2 separate regions of the Homo sapiens genome follow, and region 2 is linked to region 1. A link means that fine-mapping ties the variant in region 1 to the expression of a gene that starts in the linked region. Tissue or cell type: prefrontal cortex. Region 1 holds a variant in brackets; the other region holds the start of a gene. All regions are shown on one strand. Distances are between the middles of the regions.

What was found. PIP is the estimated chance that this variant, and not a neighbour inherited with it, causes the effect.
Region 2: LRIT2 starts here. The variant in region 1 is fine-mapped to the expression of LRIT2 in prefrontal cortex (GTEx, PIP above 0.99). The same link has a PIP of 0.9 or more in anterior cingulate cortex, caudate, cerebral cortex, hippocampus, nucleus accumbens and putamen.

Annotation. Positions count from the first base shown.
Region 1 is chr10:84,189,495-84,197,598 of GRCh38, reverse strand. CDHR1 (cadherin related family member 1) reads right to left here and starts at 3,062. Exons shown (of 17, transcript NM_033100.4): 1 at 2,784-3,062; 2 at 2,010-2,105; 3 at 949-1,094. The coding sequence starts at 2,838. RefSeq lists silencers at 2,847-2,966, 3,037-3,166. The variant G/A (reference allele first, on the strand shown) is at 3,135.
Region 2 is chr10:84,222,061-84,230,164 of GRCh38, reverse strand. It overlaps LRIT2 (leucine rich repeat, Ig-like and transmembrane domains 2), which reads left to right and starts at 4,621. Exons shown (of 3, transcript NM_001017924.5): 1 at 4,621-4,754; 2 at 5,051-5,832; 3 at 7,485-8,104. The coding sequence starts at 4,645.

The DNA.
Region 1 (8,104 bases):
CTTGAGACCTTATTTTGGGACTTTTGTGTCCGGGGTTCTTATAAACTCAGAGACCCAGAGGGTCTGTTGGGGCTCCAACAGAAAATACTCTCCTGCCACAGTGAGGCGAGATGTCGACCTTAGTGTGCTCAAGGTCCCATAAAGACTTTTCCTCTTTCTTTTCCCTTTTCTCCCCTTTTCTCTCCACACCTCTCCACATTCCAGGGCTCTGCAGAGGCTCACATCCATGGTGTCTCAGTGCTCCCAGGATATGGTGAGACCTCAATGGGGAAGGGTATCGGATGTTGCCAGATCCCGCGGGTGCCAGGGAGTGGGGTACTGGCAGCACAGTCAGGCTCCACTGCTGTGTCCCCACAGCAGTCCCTGAGACCTCCCTTTCCTTTCTCTACCCTGTCCTGCAGCTAGTGGAGGCTGTCACGAGCTGGCAGCATCCCCACAGCTGAGGTCCAGTTAGCCACACACCAGGCTGCTATGCGGTCTGAAAAAGCCCATGCCCTGTTGCCTGCAAGTTCTCAAGTGTGTAGAGTGGAGGAGCTCTGCCAAACTCAGACTCACTGCCAACCACCCTTTCCAGCCTTGACCTGCTCTGAGTTCCTGTGCCTCTCCCAGGACAGGCTTGAAAAATCACTTTGTGAGGTTTCTTTCAGAAACCTCAAAGTGCAAACGGATTTATTTTTAATGGAACATGCTTAAAAGATTAGCAGGGCTGGCAGGTGCTCGTTAAAGGAGCCCACTCTTCGCTCTGTGTGAAGGAGGAGCATGAAAGTAAAGCCCACTCTGCTGATGGGAAGTGGCCCAGAGATCTCACAGAGTGGATGTGCCTGGGGTGTGCCCCCTCATCCCCTACTCTGTGGAGAGGTTCTAACCAATGTGCTCCAGGGGAACTTCAGCCCACCGAGGTCTGTCTACAGGCAGTGGCCCCGCAGCACTCCCCACACCTCCCCATACCTCTCTGTCCAGCTCTTCAACCAGGGTGATGTTTCCAAAAGTGGGGTCAACAGAAAAGACGCTTCTAGTGCTGGGGTCAAAGCTGATGTGGTAGGAGATGGGGTCTCCCTCAGGGTCTGTCCCATTCAGGGTGTATACGTGAGAGCCTGGAAGGAAACACAGTGGAGAGACATAGAATCTGAGACCCAACTTTTCCTAAAAGTGGCAGATGCTCAGGACCAACGATTCAGCTGTTTATAAAGTGACTATTCAACTCAGTGCCAAAGGTACTGCCCTGAACTTGGTGCTCATTGCTGGCCTCACCCCTGCTGGCTGCTTCCCTCTTTGTATGTTTATTCTTCACAGCGGGTGGTTGTGATGATCAGCCACTTTCCAGATTGTAATCTATAACACGGGTTACAGAGCAGGTGCAGGTCTGCCGTGCCTAACTGTAGTGCCTATGTTCTGCTCAGCCTGGTAATAACTCCTCTCTCAGGATCCAAGATTGAGGGGCTCCTGGGTACAGGGAAGGGGAAATGGGAGCAGCCATTAAGGCAGGAGGGGTGACCCACAGTGCACCACTGTCCCCGATGCCTGGACCTGGTTCTGCAGGGATTTCTGAGCCAGGTGCCTACTTTGCTCTGCTCTCCCTTTTCCCCGGGTTCCCACTACCCACAAAGTGAGGGAGAAGGAGTGTGAAATCTCCCCTTTCTCCTCCCCTCTCTCTGCATATCTCAGCAAGTTGGATGTTCTTAGGCCGTTTTAAAGCCTAGAGACCTGGGGCTCAGGGAGGTAAATACATTTGTTCAAGGTCACACAGCCATAAGGGGCAGCTGTAGCTGCCTGCCTCGCGGGGCGACCCTGTCTGTGGGGGGGAGCCCTGGTCTCCAGGACTGGCCAGACTTAAGTCGCCATGGCAGCAATGACCTTCTTTCCTGCCATTGCCCAGGGGAATTCGGAGAGCAAACAAGGAGCCCCCGGGCGCGCGCAGCAACTTGGGTGGTGCCTGGGGCACTTTGTGTTCTAAGTCTGCCTGCACCCCTCAGGGAGACCTATCGGGAGCAGGTGCCAGGGCTACTCACCTACAGGGGTGTCCTCTGGGAGGCTGAACAGAGCCATGTTTCCGTTGGTGCTGCCGACCCCGTTGTCGAAGAAGTGCGGGGCGAAGTTGGCCTGAGCTGGAAAAAGAACACAGAACAGACGGACACCCAGGCAAAGGACACCCAGACACCAGGAGGGAGCTTCGCACCAGCGCGGTCCCGCGTCAGGCCCAGCTACTGGGCAGGAGGGCGCTCCGCCTCCCCAACCCAAGTGCACCGAGGGACCCCACTGGGGCGCCGCCCAGAGGATGCCCCTGACCCCCACTCCGCCCCCGGTGGGCTCGGGCTTGTCAGGGACACGTAGCATGTGGGCGCTTAGAACCCAGGTAGCAATCCAACCCCTCCTTCATCAATGGGCAGATTGCACCCGCGCTCGGAGAGGGGCAGTGCCCCAGCCCAGCCAAGGTCAAGCCGCGAGTCAGGGCACTATCTCCTGCCCCACGCAGCATCGGAGCTGCCACCAAGCCTACAGCTCTGGTTCCCAGCAAGCGGAGAGCAGCGGGGGTCCGGGCGCCAAACCCTGGGGCCCTAGGATGCCAGCTCTGGAGAAGCGCCCCGGAGCTCCCCACTACTCCGCTACCCCACTCCCCACTACCGAATGGGCCAGGAAGATGGAAGGACTTCTCCGCTCCCGTCCACCAGCCCGAGTCCCACTCTGGAAGTGGTCCAGGACCATGTCCCTCTGGCCACCTGGGTGACGCCAGCGCCCATCTCCCTCGCCATCCACGCGGCCAGCGCGGCCCAGCGGCCACTCACCCAAGCAGAGGCGCAGCAGCCCCAGGGCCAGGGCGGCCCACCGGCAGCGCCTCATGTCTCCGCCGGCGCGGAGTGTCGCCTGCCGCCGCCGAGACCGGGCGCAGGGGCACGGAGCATGCCCTGGGCCCGCGGGGAGGGCAGAGACCACAATGGGGGTAGCGGCGACTGCAGCCGCGGCGGGAGGGGGCACGGGGCGGGAGCGGCGGGTGGCGTGAGGGCGCTAAGAGGATGACACGGCTCGGATCTGCTCCTGCCGGCCGCCTGACGAGACCAATTAGCGGCGCAGAGCGGAGCGACAGGCTCCCAGCCGCGGGCGGGGGCAGGAGGGCGTGACAAGAGGACTCCCCGCCC[G/A]CCACGCCCCCTTTGCCGGCGGCCCCCAGTCCTGGACAGGAGGACACCATGGGGGACAGGAGTGTCTTTCCCCCAAGTTGTCCTGAGGCTTTCCCAGGGTACTTAAGTCCTGGTGGGGCTTGGGCTTCGCAGTTTTCTTTTCTCATCAACTTCCTCTGTGACTTTCAGGGGCTTAGCTGTCTTCTCTGAGCTAAGCATTCCAGAAGAAAAGTTAGTGGAGCGGCCGAGAGGGCCTTGCCTTAGCAGTCTAAGCAGGTTCTATAAGCCGCGTGAGACCAAAGGCAAAGAGAAAGGGTGATGGATGGGCAGCAGATGGTAAGGGGTTATCAGGACCCCCTCTCTGTGATCTCAACCCATTCCTGCCCTGTTCCCCAGGCTGGACCACCTCTCCCAAAGGGTCTGATCTGTGTGGTGGGCAGCAGGGAGGACCCTCAGGTGTCCACCAGGGTGAGAGGCAGTTCTGCTCCCCATTCCCAGTCAGTGCCCAGTCTGGGACCATGAAGGGGCAGCTGACCCACTCTTCAAACCTTCCAAGGAAGAGTGAAGGGCCTGAAGGCAGAGTTAAGCCCCATCTTAGGACAGACTTGCACAGAGCTGGCCAAGATAGATCTGAACTGCCCGAGAGGCACGAGATCTCATTCCTAGAGGGTATTTACACAAAGCAAGGCACTGCTATTGGGGTCCTGGATGCTGATAACTTGAAGACACAGGTAAGCCCAGGAACCTTTTTGGCTGCTGGTAAAGCTCCTTGGGCTTCCTCGTTCTCCTGCTCTGACACTGGAGGGTGCTTGGAAATGCAGCCTGTTTTCCTTTTCCTGGTTGGGCCATTTATGGGGGTACAGGTCACTTCAAGCCCAAGCCAGGCCACTTCCCAGGATGCCCTTGGGTGGATGTGTTCTCAGATAGAGGAGATCCCTCCTCTGTGTGCTCCTGGGAGAGGTCTCCACAGCTGAGGACTCAGCATTCCCCCCCTCCCCCTGCCAGGGGCCTTTGAGGGAACAGAGCACCCCCCATCCCTTGGTCTAGCCCTACATGATCTACTGTGAGCAAGGGTCAGGGATTTGCAGAGAAGAAGGAAGATGAATCAATGGTTTTAGAATGTGCAGCAGTTTTCAGGCCTAATTGGCCGAAACCCTTGTTGAGTCTCCTTAGGCTTGGCTCTTTTGCTGAAAAGACACACTTTAAATTGCACAGATGTTCTGAATCTGCCTCCCAAAGTGCTGGGACAAAGCTAAGGCAAGTATTCTGCAAGTCCCATATAGGGATGTGGAGACTGAGTCTTGCCGTGGATTTCCCAGGAGCCAGAGGCAGAGCCAAGGTTTCCTGGAGTAGATGTCTTGGTGGGCCGAGAAAAGCCAGCTCTCCCTGGGTCCTGTTAGCCCTGCTCCTCACCAATCTAGGGCCGTTGATTTCTCTCTCCTCAGTTCCCTCAGTCAACAGCCATGCACTGGAGAGGGAAGGGGAAGGAGTAGCCTACATGCCATGTGCTGTATGTGTGCTTATGTATATTTGCCCATATTATCTTATTTGACCTGCACTGCTCTCCCAATGTGATTTTCTCTGCTTTGCAGAGGAGGGAGATTTCCTCATTGGCTGTGTACGACCAAGCAAGTGACTTATTCTCTCTGAGGTGCAGAGCTTGGATTCACATACAGTTTGGGTTGGCTCCAAAGAAGGTTCAAACTCTTTTTTTTTTTGAGCTGGAGTCTCACTCGGTCACCCAGGCTGGAGTGCAATGGCGGATCTCAGCTCACTGCAACCTCTGTCTCCTAGGTTCAAGTGATTCTCCTGCCTCAGCCTTTCAAATATTGGCATTACAGGTGCACGCCACCATGCCCAGCAAATTTTTTTTCTTTTTTTTTTTTTTGGTAGAGACGGGGTTTCACCATGTTGGCCAGGCTAGTCTTGAACTCCTGACCTCAGGTGATCCACCCATCTTGGCCTCCCAAAGTGCTGGGATTACAGGCATGAGCCACTGTGCCCGCCTGGTTCAAACCCTTTTCATGGCAGAAGAAGATGATCTTGAATCTACTGAAGCTTCAGCTTCTAGGCCTCTCACTCACACATCACACATTCCTTCCAGAGCCCCAGTTTTGTATTTTACTTTGTATTTTCTTCTTCTTTCTTTTTAGAGATAGGGTGTTATTATGTTGCCCAGGCTGGCCCTGAACTCTAGGGATCAAAAGACTCTCCTGCCTCAGCCTCCTGAGCAGCTGAGAATACAGGCAGCACCATTACATCTGACTTCTATTCTGATGTAGAAGGGTCTGAGAAAGACCCTCCACACCCCCCACTCCAACTCCTGCTGCTTCCTTCAGCTGTTTTAGGTTCAGATCTGCTAGTGTAACCAGCTGCCCAAATTTGCCTGGGACTGAGGGGTTTCCAGGGATGCAGGACTTTCAATGCTAAAACCAGCAAAGCCTAAGGTAACCTGGTATTTGGCGGTCACCCTAGATACAACCCTGTCCTCAAATCACCTAAGGACCTGGGAAAACAGCAGCTCTTTATGGTGGTTCTCACCATGGACCCTGATCTTGACCTTGCAGTATGGAAGGTCTTGGCTTGTCAAGGCTCAGTAGGACTCATCTGCCATGAGACATGGGACCTGACCCTCACTTACAGAGCCTGGGCAGCCTCAGGCACACCAGTCACACTGTCTTCCAAATGCCCGTCACCCCTGAAGGGTGGTGAGCTCCCTGTCTCCTGGGACCTCCTTGCCATGGTACCTGCAGTGCAGTACCACATAGTGTCATCTTAAAGTCAGCTTCTGACAGCTCTTCTTCTGGTGGATTTATGGCAGCTTCTCCAGCTATTGATAAGCGAGAATTGGCGTGTCAGCTGTTAGCCTGGGCATGCATGTGTTGTAAGTCTGCCAATATGCCAACTCAGGCTCACGTGCACATCCATGTCTTTGCCTTTATCTGATCTACCTGAGTGTGCCAACCCACAGTCCCTTGCCCATGTGCATAGACACAAATTCACACAGCTGCTCACAAACATACACAAGAGTTATAGTCCCATTTGTACACACATACACACATATCCAACAATGTGTGAATCCACTCACATCTTATCTCCACGCATAGACACACGTGCATACCTGCACTGACAGCAGTTGGGCCAGGTGACTTCCAGGCTCCATCTGGTACTGAGGATGTGGTGAGCAGCATGTGCCTGCGATTCAGGCTCATTTCCTGACAATATGAGGGGGGAGCCAGGTCGGGTAGACAGTCGCAATAGGTTTCTAGTGCCCTGCTTCTGCCCCAGCAGTCTGAGACAGTGAGGGTGAGACCATTTGACAGACTGACCTCTGTCCTGGTGTGTTGGCATCCTGAGCTGCTCTGTCCAAAGTTTCAACAAAATGATTGCTCACGATAGGAAAGTCCTGGCCCAAGGCAGAGTTTGGTACTGAGCTTGACAGAATAGGGTCAGGGGATCTGAATAGGCTTGGATGTATCAACTGTGTACTGGACATACCCTCTCTAGATACAATTCCGTCAGGTACTGTCCCAGTCCAGGTAAGGTCCTGAAGACTCTCCTCTGCAGGTCTGGGCCAGGATGTCCTCCCCTGGCTGGAAACTGGGAGTCCCGCCCCACTCAGTGAGCTCTGAGGTTAGTAGTTCAGCTGTGGGCTCAGTGTGCCTGGGGAGCCTGGATACCCATCTACTGTGACATGTGGCTTCCCCTGCCCCCTTGCTGTGCCCGGGCCAGGTGTAGAGTGGCTATCTCAGTTTCCTCTGACATGAGGATGGGGTCCCTTTCCTATCTGAGACCTTGCCTATCTCTTTAACTGAGGGACTCTGTGGTGCCACCTGTTTCCTTGTACCCATCTAATAGGTTAGTGGCTCCAGTAACCATTTTGCCCACTCATTCTGACTCCTGGCTTGTATGGGCATTCATACGGGTGGGCAGAGCCTCCTCTAACCCTGACTTTGCCTACAGTAGTCTCCTTTGCTTTCTCAGCCTGCCACATGGCTGAGACTGAGTAGAGGAACACATCAAAGGATCTCTTTCTTCCCAGAAGATTCTTTTTCCTAGCATACCTCTGCCTCCAAGCAGAACTGCTCCCTATTTGGAACCTCAACAGAGCCTTTAAAAGACTTTAGTAGGCCTGACTCGGTGGCTCATGCCTATAATCCCAACACTTTAGGAGGCCGAGGTGGGCAGATCACTTGAGCCCAGGAGTTTAAGACCAGCCTGGGAAACACCGTGAAAACCTGTCTCTACAAAAAAAAAAAAAAAAAAAAAAAAAAAAAAAAAAAAAATTAGCTGGGTGTGATGGCATACACCTGTAGTCCCAGCTACTTGGGAGGCTGAGGTGTAGTCCCAGCTACTTGGGAGGCTGAGGTGAGAGGATTGCTTGAATCTGAGAGGTTGAGGCTGCAGTGAGCCATGATTGCACCACTGCACTCCAGAGTGAGCGCAGTGAGACCTTGTCTAAAAAAAAAGTCTTTTGTGCAGTCTGCTTTTGTGTCTCCCCTAGAAGGCTGTGCACCAGGGAAGAGGCTGAGTTTCATTCATAGTTTGCTTCAGCATTAGCATAGGGTCTGGCACAAAATAGGTCCTCAATGGGTAATTATTGACTGGCTGAACGAATAGAGGAATATATATATATTTTTGTTTGTTTGTTTGTTTGTTTGTTTTGAGACGAAGTCTGGCTCTGCACCCAGGCAGGAGTGCAGTGGCATGATCTCTGCTCACTGCAACCTCCGCCTCCCAAGTTCAAGTGATTCTCCTGCCTCTGCCTCCTGAGTAACTGTGTGCCACCATGGCCGGCTAGTTTTTTTGTATTTTTAGTAGAGATTGGGTTTTGCCATGTTGGCCAGGCTGGTCTTGAACTCCTGACCTCAGGTGATCCGCCTGCCTCAGCCTCCCAAAGTGCTGGGATTAAACGGGTGAGCCACTGCGCCCGGCCAAATAGAGGAATATTGAATGAATGAATGAAGAGGCATCTGACAATGTCATAAGCC
Region 2 (8,104 bases), 33 kb before region 1:
AACCTGGGATCAGAACCATGAGAGCACCCATGCACATGAGCATGGAATTTCCATTCTTGGATATCTTCTGCCACCACCTGGAGGGTGCACCTGACTATAACTTGTGGACCATAGACATTGGTAAGAGAGGCTGTTTTGTTGTAAGATGACAAAGACACTGTGTACATTGGGAGCCAGCAAACTTTTTTCCTGTAAAGAAAGGCAAATAGTAAATATTTTAGGCTCTGTTGCTACTACTTAACTCTGCTGATGGGATGCAAAAGCAGCCATAGACAATATGTAAATTAGTGGGTATGGATGTCTTCCAATAAGACACTTTTTACAAAAACAGGTGACAGGCTGGGTTTGACCCTGAGATTGTAGTTTGTTTACCCCTTATGAAAATTTAGAAAGATATTTCTGGTGAGTTTTGGAGACCCAAGACTCAATTCTGACTCTTTGATAAATGAGAGTGATAGACACCCCCAAAATTAGGACAAATGTAAATGCAGTAGATGAAAGCAGTCATCTGTTGAAGTGATCAGGATGTTGCCTTTAAATGATGGTCTGAACCAATCATGATGGGACAGTTATTGACCTAAAGACAAGTAACATTTAGCCAGTTTTATTGAGTCTTGTTTGAAGAAAAATCAGGAACTTAAAAGCAAGAAATCTGTAGTATTTATCTGATGTTAACAGAGACAGAAAGAGAGAGAGAGAATTCAATCTTGCCAATGATCCAATGGTTTATTGGGACCTATTTTCATGGTCTGGATGGAAAGGCCTCTGATATGGTTTGACTGTGTCCCCACCCAAATCTCACCTTGAATTGTAATAACCCCCATGAATCAAGGGTGGGGCCAGGTGGAGATCATTGAATCACGGGGGCAGTTTCCCCCATACTGTTCTCGTGGTAATGAATAAGTCGCATGAGATTTGATGGTTTTATAAATGGAAGTACCCCTGCACAAATCCTTTTGCCTGATGTCATGTAAGACATGCCTTCGCTCCTCCTTGCCTTCTGCCATGATTGTGAGGTCTGCCCAGCCATGTGGAACTGTGAGTCCACTAAACCTCTTTTTCTTTATAAATTACCCAGTCTTGGGTATGTGTTTACCAGCAGTGTGAAAATGGACTAATACAGCCTCCAAGATGATAAGCCTCCCAAAACTCATCTGTCAACCTTCCTTTGTGTATCCTGTCTTCCCTGGTTTGCCCTTGTAGAGAAGAATCATCCTGGATTACGCTCATGAATATTCAAGTCATGGGAAGAAACACATTCTTATTGTAAAAAATAAAATGATGTCTGGCTTACCTTAGTCTTTTAGTATGTGAGTCTGATGAGTATGAGTTAGTCCCTGAAAATTGAATGCCCTCTGAGTATCCTGGCAAAAGAATTTCTGGCCTTCCAATGCTGAAGACCAATTTGGGCCATGGCGAGGCTGCAGCATAGCTGGCCTTGGAAGCCTGGTTTGTAGGTTGGTTGGAATCATAGCATCTTCATGATGTCTTTTGATGACTGCAACATGGTTTTATTCCTCATGATTAAGCAGAGAATATGTCCAAGGTCACTTGCCCATTGAAGTTGCTGGGTACAAAAAGGCAAATACAGAAATTGTGCTCTGGAAAGTGGATGTGGGCTATCAAACCTAGGCTATCAATCGAGGGATTCAGTGAGCAGTTTGTCTAGAGGACAAGAGCTGGAAATTTTTGTCTTAATTATCATATAATCTAACAAAGGCAAAAATCAACATACAAGTACCTGAGCATATTTATTCACAAGGGCATTGTAGTTAGGATAGGTTAGATTTATGCTTAGGCAACCATTCCCAAATTTCCATGGCTTAACACGGAAAAATGTATTCCTGTTCCACAGACTCTACTTAAGTTTGGGAAATACAGAAGGAGGGAGGGCTCTGCTTCACTAATTTACTCAAGGACATGGCTGGGAAGACTCCACCATTTGGAATGTCAGTGGTTGCCACAACAAGGAAAAAGATAAATTGGAAGATCATGTTAGGGCTTTTCAAACCTCATTTCTTGTAACATTTCATTAGCTAGATCAAGAGTCTTGTAGCCCACCTATTTCAAGGAGGCTTGGAAAGGTCTTTTGTGTCTCTGCCACAGGCATACCTAAGAGCGTGGGTAGCTGAGGCAGCATCTCAGACATGCTGGCAGCAGACGATGGGGGTGGGAAAGAGTCCTAGCTTCAGAGAAACGGAGTACAGCGTGTCTGCTCCCTGATAGGATGCCCTGTTCTCTGTCTGAGGTAGCCCAGTGTTTTACTAATATTGGGAAGGTGAGTGGCATTTTCCAATTGAATAGATAGGACACTCTCCTATTAAGATTCTATTAAGACAAGCCAGGGAGCTGCCTCCCTGCAGCCATTTATATCTAAGCATTTCACAAACACAGAGTAATTCCTCCCCCATGACTCTGTCTCTATGGAGAATTTTAAGACCCTAGTTCTGAAAAGCATCCTGCAAGAGGGAAGATGGGTTGTAATATTTCCAGACCCTCTTGCCATTGTTGTTAGGGTCTCTTGAGTTTAGGGACTACACTGAACCACAGGTTGTTTAACATAAATAACTTGACCCATGCTAACTTCAATTATCCTGGTCTCCTGCCTCAATTTCCAAGAGAGCCACTCCCTCTGTTCATATGCCAAATAAGGAAACCAGAGAATGAGGGGGTCAGGAAAGGAGTGGGGGGCAGTAGAGAAGTGGCCTAGATGATTCTAGAGATAGCATGCCAGTGGGTGTGCTTCACAAGCTTCCCGCAAACTTCTTGAAAGTTGGATGGAGCTGGATTCATTTGAAAAGGCTGGCATGAGATGGACAGAGAGGAAATTGTGGGGGAATGGAGGACTCTTAAGATCTTTATCCTTTGGGGTAAGGGGAGAGAAAGGAATCCACTAGTGGTTTGGAATAGTCATGAATTAAATCACATATTTCCATGAAACAAGCCTGACAAAGCCTTAGCAAAGCTGGTAGGGGACTCTGGAGTGATAATTGCTCATCAGAGTTTTCCCCCATCAGGGCAAACTGGCCAGGCCCTCACCACCCTCAGTCACTGAATGTGGGATGTGGCTGCTTTGGGAAGGACGTGACCTCATGCAAGCACTCCTTGCAGCTGAGCATCCACTTATACCTTGAAGGGGGATCTAGGAAGCACATAGCCATATGTATGACAAACTTTGTGCCGATAGCTCTCTCTTTGTTTTGGATTTTTACCTTTAGACAAACACAGTGGTCCCCCCAGGTTTTAGAGTTAGACTGTTTGGAAACTCCTGCAAATATTTCTGGCTTGGATGGAAAGCCTGGAGTGTAATCAGCTTAGCTGGTGACCCATTTCCCCCCTCACTGGTTAGCTAAGCGGATTTTCTTTCCTGAGGCCTTTTGTAGGGTACAATGTATATCATGAGTCTTAAAGGAACTCATGGAATTTCAATATTCAACTGGAAGTGCCCTAGTTAATAGAGATGTAGACTTTTCGGATCTTAAAGAGTTTGTCAGTGGGAGGAGGATTAATGGGCACCAACTGTGTGCTAGGTGTTGTATTTAACATAATCTCAAACTTTTCTAAAAATATGGCTGGATGCAATGGCTTGCACCTGTAATCCCAGTTACTTGGGAGGCTGAGAAGTTTGAGACCAGCCTGGGCAACAGAGTGAGACCCTGTCTCTGAAAAAATACAAAAATTAAAAAATAATGAGAAATAAATTCCTGGAAACACTATGAGGTATTTGTTAATATTCTCATGATACAGAAAAGACTCACAGAGATTAAATTACATTCCAAAGATCTCAAGATTCAGAAGCACAAACAAGAGAGAAGACTCCTTGGGACAGGGTCTATAATAGGTTTGCCCTTGACCCTGTTCCTTTCATTGGGCAAGAGTATAGCTTAAAGCAAATGACCAGTAAATATTTGTGGAATAAATGAAGAGTGAAAGAGCAAGCATATAAAATTGTATACATCTCTTTTTAAAATGTAGGTTGCCCATTTTGATGAAGTGAAATGCACAGTATTAAGGAAAGGTTGTGAAGTCCAAGAAAACAATCTTTTGGTTTAATCAGAAAATACCATCTTGTATTTGAAACTGGTGACCCAAGCTGCAGAAGCAGCTGTCTTGATGCAGTAGGAGCATGACTACACCACCCGTGGTGTTGGGAAGAGAACAAATGATAGGAATGAACACAGAATTACTTTGTTACTCATCACCTATTTTCACTTTGAGAAAATGATTGGAAATTCTAGGTTTCAGGAATCAACTGCAAATGATGAAGCATTAGATGGATTCTGGCCACATCCCCTGAACAGTGGTGCTCAGAATAGCACTGCCTGCTTGTTTCTCAGACTTCTGTTTAAGACTCTAAGAAATGTAGAATCTGTATGGAATTGGACATCTGACTTGGAGTTTGCTTTTCAGACTCAAGAATTACACAAATGTTGAATTTCCTGACCCTAGTTAAGAGACATTGATCCCCCTTCGTGTGTTCTGACTGAACTTGTGGTCTGGGCTGTAACAGACCTCAGAGCTCCCATGGGCTTTCCTGCTGCTGTGTGACTTACATCATCATGGATTACCAATAATAGGATTTGCCACTCGGAAGCTGGGGCGATACTTATTCAAAACTCACAACGTATTTTCTTACAGAGAAATATGGCTTCAGTTTTTCATTACTTCCTGTTAGTTCTGGTCTTTCTGGATACACACGCAGCTCAGCCTTTCTGTCTGCCAGGATGCACTTGCTCAGAGGAGAGTTTTGGCAGGTGCGCTCTGCTGGCCAGATGTTAGAGGGTTATGGGGAATGGGTTTTCTTTGGGGATGATGTGGAGTGGAAGCAGGCTTAGAATTGGCAGGAAATCAGCAAAACTCTATGAGACTCATTCTAGTTGGGACTGAACTTTGCTGAACTGTGCATTTTTACCAAAATGAGTCTAACTCTTTTATTTCAATGAATAATAATATTTTTATTCTGATTCACATGTCTAATGCCAGGATCAGCCTGACCCCACTTTTCAGTCCCCTGTTGTTTATCTTAAAGCTGTTCTGGTTTCTTGTACAGGACTCTGCAGTGCACATCTGTCTCCTTGGGAAAGATCCCTGGGAACCTTTCTGAAGAGTTCAAGCAAGTGAGAATTGAAAATTCACCCTTATTTGAGATGCCCCAAGGGTCTTTCATCAACATGAGCACCTTGGAATACCTCTGGCTCAATTTTAACAATATCAGTGTGATCCACCTAGGAGCCCTGGAACACCTGCCAGAACTGAGGGAGCTGAGACTGGAGGGGAACAAGCTCTGCTCAGTACCATGGACAGCGTTCCGTGCCACCCCTCTCCTGAGGGTCTTGGATCTCAAACGCAACAAGATTGATGCACTCCCTGAGCTGGCTCTTCAATTCTTGGTCAGCCTGACCTACCTTGACCTATCCTCCAATAGGCTTACAGTTGTATCCAAGAGTGTCTTCCTGAACTGGCCAGCCTACCAGAAATGCCGGCAGCCTGACTGTGGGGCTGAGATTCTCTCCAGCCTGGTGGTGGCCCTGCATGACAACCCCTGGGTATGTGACTGTCGCCTAAGGGGGCTTGTCCAGTTTGTCAAGTCCATTACCCTCCCAGTCATCCTGGTGAATTCCTACCTGATATGTCAGGGCCCTCTGTCCAAGGCAGGGCAGCTTTTTCATGAAACTGAGCTTAGTGCTTGCATGAAGCCACAGATCTCAACCCCCAGTGCCAATATCACCATCCGGGCAGGACAGAATGTGACCCTGCGATGCTTGGCACAGGCCAGCCCCTCACCATCCATTGCATGGACTTATCCCCTGAGTATGTGGAGAGAATTTGATGGTAAGCCACATGCACCCTCTCAGTGTATCTGGAGGGAATGGAGAGGTCTGTAGCAAACCCATCCTCATTAGAGAGATTCAAAGCTGGGTCAGTCACGAAGGGTGGGTGCAAGTAAGATTGGGATAGCCCTGAATTATGCTCACTAGAACAGAAAAGATTTCAAGGTAGTGTTCCACTATTGGCATTATTTTAAATGTTTGCATACAGATCTCTTTGCATACAGAACATATACACATATATAAACACATATTTCAGGGCTAATTTAATATCTTATGCAAATATTATAAAATTTTATATGAGCAGATATAGTCTTTGGGAATCTTCTAGATGCAAAACACTGGACTATGTATTTTAGAATTCTAGAATTTTTTACTAGGATTGATTTTAGAGATGATCTATTAGTTATTTCCTTAACTTGCCTGAGCAGAATCACCTGGGGTGCTTGTTTGAAATAACACTGACATAAAATTGTTCAGACCTTATTGGCTTGAATTTGTAATACTGGGACCCAGGGAAAGGAAGTGACCTCTGTGGGCCCTGGGGCTGGAATTCAAACCTGCCTCTTCCTTCCTGGAACCCTCTGCTCTGTTTTCATACCTCAGCTGGGATTACCTTTAATGCTACTCTGTAGGGTTGGGCATATCACAAAGCCGGGGATGGCCTCCCTGGGGGTATCCCAAAGCTGAAAAGAAAAATCTTCGTACATTCCTCGTGTCCTGTCTTCTGTTCTCTGTCTAGAAGACAACTAGGAATAGCTGGGTAAAACTTGGGAAATATAGTCATTTGCCCAGGTATTTGTTATACATTATGACAAAACTCTGGATGGTTTAAAAATACCCAATTAACTGAATTTTCACATTCTGTATTGTTTTGATAATACCTTATTGGTTTGGCATTCAATATCAATGAAAGAAAATTATAGGATTTATTGTTGTAGCCTCTTTGAAAACCAAGAAATGCATACAGGTGTTGTCTTTCGTGGTGTTCTATAATCACTGTTTGGCAACGTGTTATATAATCTCTCAGTAAAAATATAAGCATTGAACACTTACTTTCAAACTAATGAGGTAGGTGATTGCTTATCATCCCATTTTATTGACAAGAAAATTGTCAAGAGAATTTAAGCAACTTGCCCAGTACCACACTGGATAGGAGCTCCATTAGGGATAGCAGCCCAGGCATGTGGCTCCAGGCTCTGAGGAACTGTGCATCTGGAAGGTAAGAAGGCACTTCCTGAAGCTCATAATATCGTACAATCACATAGTTGCAAGAACTCTCCTGAAAGCCATGGCTCAGCAAGGCGAAGGTGGTTTGGTGGGTGCAGTTAGTGAAGTTGAAAGAGTATGGTCTTCATAGATTGAAGAGCCAGGTCCCATATCAATTGTTGCTTCTGAACAACTCTCACTACGGGCAAGTTGATGGATTGCTCCAATCCTCAATATCCTATGTGTAAAGATCAGTTATTTATCTTACAGGATTGCTGGGAGGCAAACACCTGACACCAGGTACGAGGTTCATAAGAGGTTACCACCATCTTCTAACAACAACAATAACAAAAAACAAAGCAAAACAAAACAAAACTGGCATTGCTAGACACTTTCCAGCAGTCTATCAGATAAATGCACAGCTGTTTTGTTTTTCTTTCCACCCAGTGTTGACATCTTCTACTGGAGAAGACACTGCTCTGTCAGAGCTGGCCATACCTGCTGCCCACCTGGTAGACAGTGGTAATTACACCTGCATGGCCTCCAACTCCATTGGCAAGAGCAACCTTGTAATCTCTCTCCATGTCCAGCCTGCCCAGGCCCTACATGCACCTGATTCTCTTTCCATCCCCTCGGAGGGCAATGCCTACATTGACCTGCGGGTTGTCAAGCAGACAGTGCATGGGATTTTGCTGGAGTGGCTTGCAGTGGCTGACACCTCTAAGGAGGAGTGGTTCACCCTCTACATTGCATCGGATGAAGCCTTCAGGAAGGAGGTGGTTCACATTGGCCCCGGAATCAATACTTATGCTGTGGATGACCTCCTTCCTGGCACAAAATATGAGGCCTGCCTCAGCCTAGAGGGCCAGCCTCCACACCAGGGCCAGTGTGTAGCTTTTGTAACAGGCAGAGATGCTGGTGGGCTAGAGGCACGTGAGCACCTCCTGCATGTCACAGTGGTCCTGTGTGTGGTGCTGCTTGCAGTGCCTGTGGGCGCCTATGCCTGGGCAGCCCAGGGCCCCTGCAGCTGCAGCAAGTGGGTCCTGCGCGGCTGTCTTCATCGCAGG